Regions from separate parts of the Homo sapiens genome. Here region 2 is linked to region 1. Evidence: fine-mapped expression QTL. A gene starts in region 1. The other region holds a variant in brackets. All regions are shown on one strand. Distances are between the middles of the regions. Region 1 holds the start of CLEC4F (C-type lectin domain family 4 member F). Region 2 overlaps VAX2 (ventral anterior homeobox 2).

Evidence for each region. PIP is the estimated chance that this variant, and not a neighbour inherited with it, causes the effect. A credible set is the group of variants that fine-mapping cannot tell apart.
Region 2: its variant is the best candidate, but not a certain one, in a credible set for the expression of CLEC4F in skeletal muscle (FUSION, PIP 0.60).

Annotation. Positions count from the first base shown.
Region 1 is chr2:70,818,125-70,822,508 of GRCh38, reverse strand. It overlaps CLEC4F (C-type lectin domain family 4 member F), which reads left to right and starts at 1,910. Exons shown (of 7, transcript NM_173535.3): 1 at 1,910-2,046; 2 at 2,618-2,734; 3 at 3,065-3,154. The coding sequence starts at 1,986.
Region 2 is chr2:70,931,414-70,935,797 of GRCh38, reverse strand. It overlaps VAX2 (ventral anterior homeobox 2), which reads right to left. Exons shown (of 3, transcript NM_012476.3): 3 at 2,352-3,031. The coding sequence ends at 2,594. Among named protein-coding and RNA genes, the nearest start is that of ATP6V1B1, 2.3 kb to the left of the region's middle. The variant G/TTTTTTG (reference allele first, on the strand shown) is at 1,736.

The sequences.
Region 1 (4,384 bases):
TCCACTGGGATGCCTCATGCCTTCTCTTCTAATGCTAGGCCCACCCAGCAGCAGGAACCCCTGAAGCAGTATCTGTTCCTCCTGGAAGGGATAGGGCTCATTGAAAGCCACACATTGGCCCCAGCCTGCTCCATCAGATTCTTTGGAGTTAGTCTTGAGAACCTGGTCACCTCAGGAGGCATGGATCCAATCAGCTAAAGTTGGGGCCTGCTTGGTATTTTCTGACACCACTTCTGACACCAAATGTGTGCTTTTTCCTGACACCAGCCGATTCTCTGACACCCGCTGGGCATCCAACAATTCAAACAGATTCTAACACTAACTTCCAGAGTTAGCACAGATCTCACAGGGTAAGGCCTCAGTCCCACAAGACTGCCCCCCTTCAGATGCTAGCTACAAGTGAGGTAGTGACCCCACTTCTGCCTGGTCAACTACAAATTTGGGGGTTCTGGCTAGGCAAGGTGGCTCATGCCTGTAGTCCCAGCACTTTGGGAGGCTGAGGTGGGAGGATCACTTGAAGCCAGGAGTTCCAGACCAGCCTGGGGTATAAAAAGAGATCCCATCTCTACAAAAAAATAAAAATAAAAAATTAGCCAGGTATGTTGGCACACACCTGTAGTCCCAGTTATGCTGGGGTTATGCTGGATGTGACAGAGGCTGGGATGTTGGGGCTGAGAACTGAGGATCACTTGTGTCCAGGAGTTCAAGGCTGCATTGACTTATGATCGTACCACTGCACTCCAGCCTGAGTGACAGAGGGAGACCCTGTCTCAAACAAAAAATTAGGGGGTTTCTGCAACAACCTCTCAGTTTTCATAATTCACTAGAACAATTCACAGAACTCAGAAAAACACTGTACTTCCTATTCTTTTATTGTAAAGGACAAAAACAGCCTGATGAAGAGGTACACAGGGCAAGGCCCAGTGGGGTCCCAAGTGCAGGAGACTCTGTCTCTGTGGAGTCAGGGCATGACACCCTCCTGGCATGTGGATCACCAATCCCTAAGCTCCTTGAATCTCATTTTTTAAGAGTCGTTATAGCCCAGACCCCAGGCCATCTCCCATACCTGGAGGTCTGGGAGTAGGGAATGGGAGTGGGTGGCTGAAAGTCCCAGTCTTCCAAAGTCTAATCCCATGTTTGGTCTTTCTGGGACCAGCCTCCAGCCTGAAATTATCTAAGGGTCCACCCTGTGTCACCTCATTAGCATAAACCCAAGTGTAGTCCTAAGGGGCTTATTATGAATAACAAAAAACACTCCTGTCACCCAGGAAACTCTAAGCGTTTTAGGAGTTCTGTGTCAGGAACTGAGATGAAGACCAGATATATTTTTTACAGAGTTGTCCCTTGGTATCTGCAGGGGATTTGTTTCAGGACTCCCATGGGTACCAAAGTCCACAGATGCTCAAGTCCCTTGTACAAAATCATGTAGTATTTTTATATAACCTCCGCACATCCTCCTGTATACTATAATTCAGTTGTGAGTCCCCAAGTGGCTGGTCACCCCGCTTCCTCCTTTGACCTGCAAATATCGGCCGCACTGACCTGGCCCCTCTTTTACCTGACTCCTTTTACTTAAGAGGTTCTGAGGCTAGAATTAAAGGTCAGCCATAGTCATAAGGATGTTTTCTGTGCAAAGCTGAGACCCCCTTCCTAGGTGCCAGTCCCAGCCCCCAGAGAAGAAGAGGTGTGTTTGGGGTTATGCTGGATGCGGCAGAGGCTGGGATGATGGGGCTGAGAACTGACGGGAAGGTGCTAATGGGAAGAGGAAGAAAATAGGGCAGATGGGTATCTGGGAGCCTCTAGGGGAGGGGCCCACTGGGGCGGGTTTCTGCAGAGTCAGGCAGGGAGGGAGGAAGAGCTGGGAGGGTGGTCAGGAGCATATAAGTGTGGGTGTCTCAGCTTTGCTTCCACTGCCATTGGTCCACGGGACGGCCCTTCCAGGAGCCAGTGGCTGGGAGCAGTGCTGGAGGATCAAGGAAGCAGAGATGGACGGTGAGGCAGTCCGCTTCTGCACAGATAACCAGTGTGTCTCCCTGCACCCCCAAGGTGAGAAAACTGGGGCCCCAGCTCTTGCCCAGTGAGGGAGTAGCCTGCCTGTCCTTTGGCCCTCTGCCATAAGGCAGCTTATTGCTGTCTTATTGCTCTCCCCAGACCCTTGTCCTTGGGGATGCAGACCTGGCAAGAGAAAGGGGATGAACTTTGAATTCAGATGGTCCTGGCTTGGAATCCCGGCTCTGCACACTGAGCTGGTCCTGTGAGGCCTCCCTCCCTTCCTTTCTTCTTTCATTCAAACTACACTTTTGTTGCTCTGTGCTCTGTGCCAGGTTCTGTGCCCTGTGCACCACCAAAGCCTCCTTGAGATTTGGAGATCGGTGGTCTCGGTCTCAGAGCTCCTCAGCTCTGTGTTGCTACCATATCCACATCTAGCTCTGGTGAACAGCCCAAAGTGTTTTGTCTTCCTTCTCCATAACCACCTGCATGATAAGCATGGCAGGAGTTATCATCCCCATTAGACAACCCAGGAAACAGAATCAGAGAGGCTGTGTCTCAGCCTGCACAGCACCCTCTTACCTTGCACAGCACCCTCTCACCTTGGACACTGCCTTCTCCCCTGCAGAGGTGGACTCTGTGGCAATGGCTCCTGCAGCCCCCAAGATACCGAGGCTCGTTCAGGCTACCCCGGCATTTATGGCTGTGACCTTGGTCTTCTCTCTTGTGACTCTCTTTGTAGTGGGTAAGCCCCCAGGTGACCCAAATCTCACTAACTTTCTCTCCTTTCAGCACAAAGTCCCCAGGGGCCCCAGATGCACACTCTCTGGGCCTCTCTGCTCCCAGAAAGATCATTCCACCTCCAGCTCCAGGCCCAAGCCACAGCTTCCCTGGGAACAGATAAAGGCCACTGTCCAAGGGGGAGCCTCCCAAGAACTGAGGTTCATGAGGGAAACCCTGGGAGGGTCTTTGCTGCTATCTCCCCGGTTCTGGAACTCTACCTCTGTGTGGGACAGCGTATCCTCCCAGGCTCAGGGCTGGGGATTTGCTGACCTGGAAAAATGGAATGTCTCAGTTCAACAGCAGACAAGACCTGTTCCGAAGCCTGTGCAAGCCGTAATTCTGGGAGACAACATTACTGGGCATTTACCTTTTGAACCCAACAGTGAGTAGCCACAGTGGGGGTGGGGTGCAGAGGGAACTGGGGCCTTCAGATGCTCAGACCCTAGGATGAGCTTCTCTCCTGGTACCCTCTGACCACTGAATGGGCTCCACCATCCTCACAGAAAGAGATAATTTTTTAAAAACACAGTTTTATTGAGGTCTAATGGTGTATATATTTAAAGCATACAATCTGTTAAGTTTTGACATATGTGTGTGCCCCTGAAACCATCACCACAATCATCATCACATAGTCATCCTCCTCACCCCAAAGTTTCCTTGTGGCTCTTTGTAATTCCTTCCTCTCCCTTCCTCTCCTCATCCCTGGGCAGCCACAGATCTACTTGCTGTAACTATAGATTAGTTTGCTTTTTCTAGAGTTTTATAGATAAGAGATCATAGAGTATGTACTCTTTGTTCTTTGCTAGTCATGTGATTTGCAAATATTTTTCTCTCAGTCTGTGACTTGTCTTGTCATTCTCCTAACAAGATTTTAATTTTGATAGTCTAATTTATCATTTTATTTCTGTTATGGATTATTCTCATGATCTCGTATGTGAGAAATCTGCCTAATCCAAGGCTACAAAGATGTTCTCCTTTGTTTCTGGAAATTGTACAGTTTTTAGTTTTAGTTTTTGTTTTTGTTTTTTGACGGAGTCTCGCTCTGTCACCCAGGCTGGAGTGCAGTGGCGTGATCTCGGCTCACTGCAAGCTCTGCCTCCCAGGTTCATGCCATTCTCCTGCCTCAGCCTCTGGAGTAGCTAGGACTACAGGCGCCCGCCACCACGCCTGGCTAATTTTTTGTATTTTTAGTAGAGACGGAGTTTCACCGTGTTAGCCAGGATGGTCTCGATCCCCTGACCTCGTGATCTGCCCACCTCAGCCTCCCAAAGTGCTGGGATTACAGGCGTGAGCCACCATGCCCAGCCCGGTTTTTAGTTTTACATTTAGGTCTCTGCCTCATTTGAGTTAATTATTGTATAATGGTGTGAAATTGATTGTTCCAGCACCATTTGTTGAAAAAGTTATCTTTCTCCGTGAATTGCCTTTGCACCTTTGTTGAAATTCGATTGTCCATATGTGTGGGGGTCTACTTCCGTATTCTCCATTCTGTCGCATTGATTTGTTTGTCTATCTTTACAAAGCAGAATCTTTGACTGAACTCCCAGTACCTTGAAAGGTCCCCTCTCTTACCTTAGCACAGTAACTGAGGTCTCACACATCTACATAGGCA
Region 2 (4,384 bases), 110 kb before region 1:
ACAGTAAACAAGGAAGCCTGGGGCTCTGGCTCCCAAGCTTTCCCCACACCAAGCTGTGCAGGTCTGGGAGGGGCCCCCGTCACCTGAGAGCTGGAGGATGTGGAGGGAGAAGGGAAGAGGGGAGGGCTGGCTTTTTCCTTCTTCTGTGCTAGGCGGTTCCTCCCCGCCAACCCCAAACTGTATGAATTCAATTCCTCCCCTGGACCATCAGGTGCTGTCAACATTCCCACACTCGTCCCTCACCACAGCTCTTTCTGGTCTCTCCACACCCAACTTCTGGCAGGCTGCCCTTTCTTCACTGTTCTCGCAACCTGACCTTACCCTGCACTCCTTGCCCTGACTATACCTGGATACTTCTGCCCCCTGACAATTCCATCGTCATCTTTTTGAACATCTGTAGAGAATTATTTCCTGGTCAGCCTCAGTGCCATCTCCTACATGAAGCCTTCTCTGGATTCTCTAGCAGCCAAGATTTACTACACATCTAGCCTCTTTCCTAAGTCATGCCCTTTAGGAGAGGCCTCTCTTGTCCCTGCCACTGGGCTGTGAGCCCCCAAAAGCTGAGCCTGTGTCTCAACCCACAGACCTGGGTCTCCTGAAGCCTGTCTGTCTCATACTATTGAGAGTTCTTGAGAATGAGGGCTGGTCTCTCTCCATCTGATCATAGAACCGTGTCTCATCTTCTCACATTCACCTCCAGATTTCTATACAGCAGGCCTGCCCTGACCTTTCCAGCCCAGGTCAGAAAGTAAAATGGAGGTCCCTGTATTGTATAACTAAATACCTGGAGTTATAAATCAAACTATGTGCACAGCCTGGCCTGGGTTCCACCCAAGACCTCACCACTGCTTCCCAAGAACTCTCTCTTCATGTCATGAAACTAAGAGTTGTGGTTTCTCCTGGTGAGTGGAGTGTGGTACAGTTCCTCTGGGCAAGGCAGGGTGGACCCTGGGTGGTAGCTGGACCTGCCCAACCCAAGGTCTTCTAGTCACCCCCATGCCTCATTCTAGGCTCAGGATTTCTGCATTTCTAAGCTCCTCCCCAAACCATACCACTGAGCAGAGGGAACGGCAGAAGTACATTTGCCTAGGGATCACTGTCCCCAAGCACCCACTCCAGGTGACTCAGGACAGCCAATTTGAAACCAAAGCAGCAGCTACTATGTTTCTCAGAGCAGACTGGAGGAGACTGTGCTTGTTATTTCTCTTCACAGAGTCAAAATCTTACCCCGCATCCTCCCTCCTGAGGACCCATTTCAGGTCTCTGGTTCCTAATGCCCATCCTTTCAAAGAACTCTCCTGTGGAGGGCGGGGGTGGGTGTGACCATCAAGGAGCAGCATGAGGAAGATCTCTGTGGTGATGGAACAGGTCTGCATCTGGATTGCAGCAGTGAGTCCATGAATCTATAAAATGACATGGCACTATGCACACACACGGTACCAATGCCAATTTCCTAGTTTTGATATTGTACTATAGTTAGGGAAGATGAAGCCTATCTGTCTCATACTATTGAGTTCCTGCCAATGGAAGGAACTTCTCTGTCCTATCTCTGCAGCTTCCTGTAAATCTATAATTACTGCAAAATAAAAAGTTAAATAAAAGAGTCTTGAGCAAGACTCTTATTTAACTTTAAAAAAATTTATATTGTTTGAGCAATATGAAATATATATAATATGTATGTGTGTGTGTGTGTGTGTGTGTGTGTATATATATATATATATTTTTTTTTTTTTTT[G/TTTTTTG]AGTCAGAGTCTCCCTCTGTTGTCAGGCTGAAATGCAGAGGCATGATCTTGGCTCACTGCAGCCTCCACCTCCTGGGTTCAAGCGATTCTCCTGCTTCAGCCTCCTGAGTGGCTGAGATTACAGGCGCCCGCCACCATGCCCAGCTAATTTTTGTATTTTGAGTAGAGATGGAGTTTCCCCATGTTGGCCAGGCTGTGTATAGATATTTTAAAGGGTTTCATGTTGCAGTTTGTGATGGGTAGGCCGTCTCTAAACATCTGGACTCTTGCTTGTGTTTAGCTTTGATGCTCTCTCTCCCTCTCTCTCAACCTGGTCTCCCCTTTCACCATTCACCCTCTTCAAGGTGACAATGTTTCCCTCTCTCAAGTATTTTTATGTTTGAAAGAGAGCTTGTAAAGGGCAACATTTAACCAAAGAATTCGTGTTGGTGCCATGGGCTTCTATTGAGTGGGAATCAGGTGCCTGCTGACCGACACATGTGAGTCCCCTGACCCCCAGAATCCCAGTTTCTGCCCTCTCCCATCTGAGGTCCCTCTGACTCTAAGCCCATTTTCCCTTCCAGTGACAAGAGGGATAGAAGGGATTGAGGGGTAAGTAGTTGTGCTGTGGGCACCATTTCCCTTCTTGTCATTGTTTTCCTTTTATTTCAGTGAGAGACACACACACTCACACTGCACTCACGCACACAAGCTGCGGGACCAAGGCCATTTGGTCACGAGTCTCTGAGCTGGGGGGCAGGTGGGGAAGAGTGTGTGGCTGCAGCCCCTCCTCTCCGGGGCCTGCTCAGTGCTGTCCGCTGGGGCACAGGAGACTGGGAAGGTGCTGTGCTCGGGACTCAGTGTCACAGGGTGGGAGTCTTAAGTGTTAGCTTTCTTGCAGCTGCTGGCGCTGCCCACTTTCCGTTCTAGCCAGCTGTATGGCTCGAAGGCCGAGGAACCCAGTTCGTAGCCGGCAGGCAGATCCAGGAGCGGGGCCGAGGAAAAGCAGACAGCTGGCAGAGGGGGCGGCAGTGGGGGGGACGCTGAGGCCGAGGACAGCGGGTTGAGGCGTGGGGAGGAGTTCCTGGGGTCACCTAAGGAGGTGCCCCTGTGGCTGGCAGGTAGGCCTGGCAGGCTAGGGGTCAGCGCCAGGAGGCTAGGGGCCCTGGGCACAGAGAGCAGCCGGCCCTGCTCCAGCAGCCGCAGAATGTTGGAGGTGGCAAAGGCCTCGGAGGCTGAGGAGGACGCCCGCTTCTCCAGGTCTCTGCTCTGGTCTTTCTTCTGCTTGGTGCGGCGGTTCTGGAACCAGACCTTCACCTTGGGGTGGGGGAGGGGGTGTCAAGGAGGGAGATGGGACAGGCAAAGCAAAGTGGGGGCAGGTGGGAGGAGGAAAGGAGAGGAAGGGCATGGGGTTGGGGCAGGTGGTGGATGGGGGTGGGGGTGGGGTGTGAGGGTGGAGCAAGAGGGAAAGAAGAGCAGATTGTTGTTAAGGTCTCCCCACAACCATCCTGCTGTAGGCGAACTGATTAGGGACTCTGGTCCCCCAAATTATGGAGGCCCCTCTACTACTAAACTGACTCTGGCCTAGGATGGAGGAATGGATCGACAGACAGAGAATGGAGTTTGGGAGTACAACTGATGTTCTCCTCTTGGCCCACATGCCCTTGGCTCAAAGTCAAGTTCACAGCCTCAGCCACCATTTATGTGCTGGTAATTCCAACTCTACCTCAGGCCCAGAGATCTGAACTGAGATCCAGGCCATGTATCCACCTGCCTGCTAGACATCTCCCCATGGATATCTCAAAAAACACCCCAAACCCCACATGTGCAGCTCTGTCCTCCAAACAGAGGCTTCCCACGCTCCCTCTTCCATCATGGCTGCCTCCACTCACTCATGCAGGAGCCTGTCTCCCAGCTGCCTAGAACAGACCCTCCTCTCTCCCTTTGTTCTCTCTGACCTGGACCGTGGCATTGTCTCTACAGCAGCACCTCTCGACCCTGGCTGCCCATGAGAACCTGGGGAGCTTTAAGCCCCTAACTCACTTCTCACCTTGGACCAATAAACTCAGAACGGGGGAACCTGGGACCCAGACTTTAGTAGTTTTTAAAGCTCACCAGGTGATTCCAAGGTGAAGAAGCCAGTGTTTTAAAGGTGTCTCTGCCCCAGGTCTAAACTGTAACATCTAGAGGGCTGGGGCAAGAGAAAAAATGGAAGCCTCTGGCTCATGGCCCACCCTGGCTCTGACCCACACGTGTGTGGCTGCCCCAGCCTGTTCACAGTCTGCAAATAGCCCCCCATTGGCCGCTTCTTGGGCCTGGAGTGCTGAATAATGTCTGTGGTCTGCCCTTGGGAAGACTGACCCTGGAGAGGCCCAGGCAGGTGCCGGATGTGGCTCAGGGCCATTTGGCGGGGAATTCTGAAACTGGACACTTTGTTGGCAGGGATGGGTGGTCTCAAAGGTGGGCACAGGCTTCTGGCAGGCGAGACCCCTTGGCTTTGCAGAGTCCTCATTCCGTAGGGAGGGGCATGACCAGAGGAGGGGCCAGATGCCTGTCTGGGGATGGTGAGGTCTCTGCATCCATGCTGGCCGCCACGCTGCCTTTGGAGGGAGCTCTTTCTAACCCAATCTGGCCATTGCCCGGTTTGAAGTTTTTAGCAGCACCCTCCTA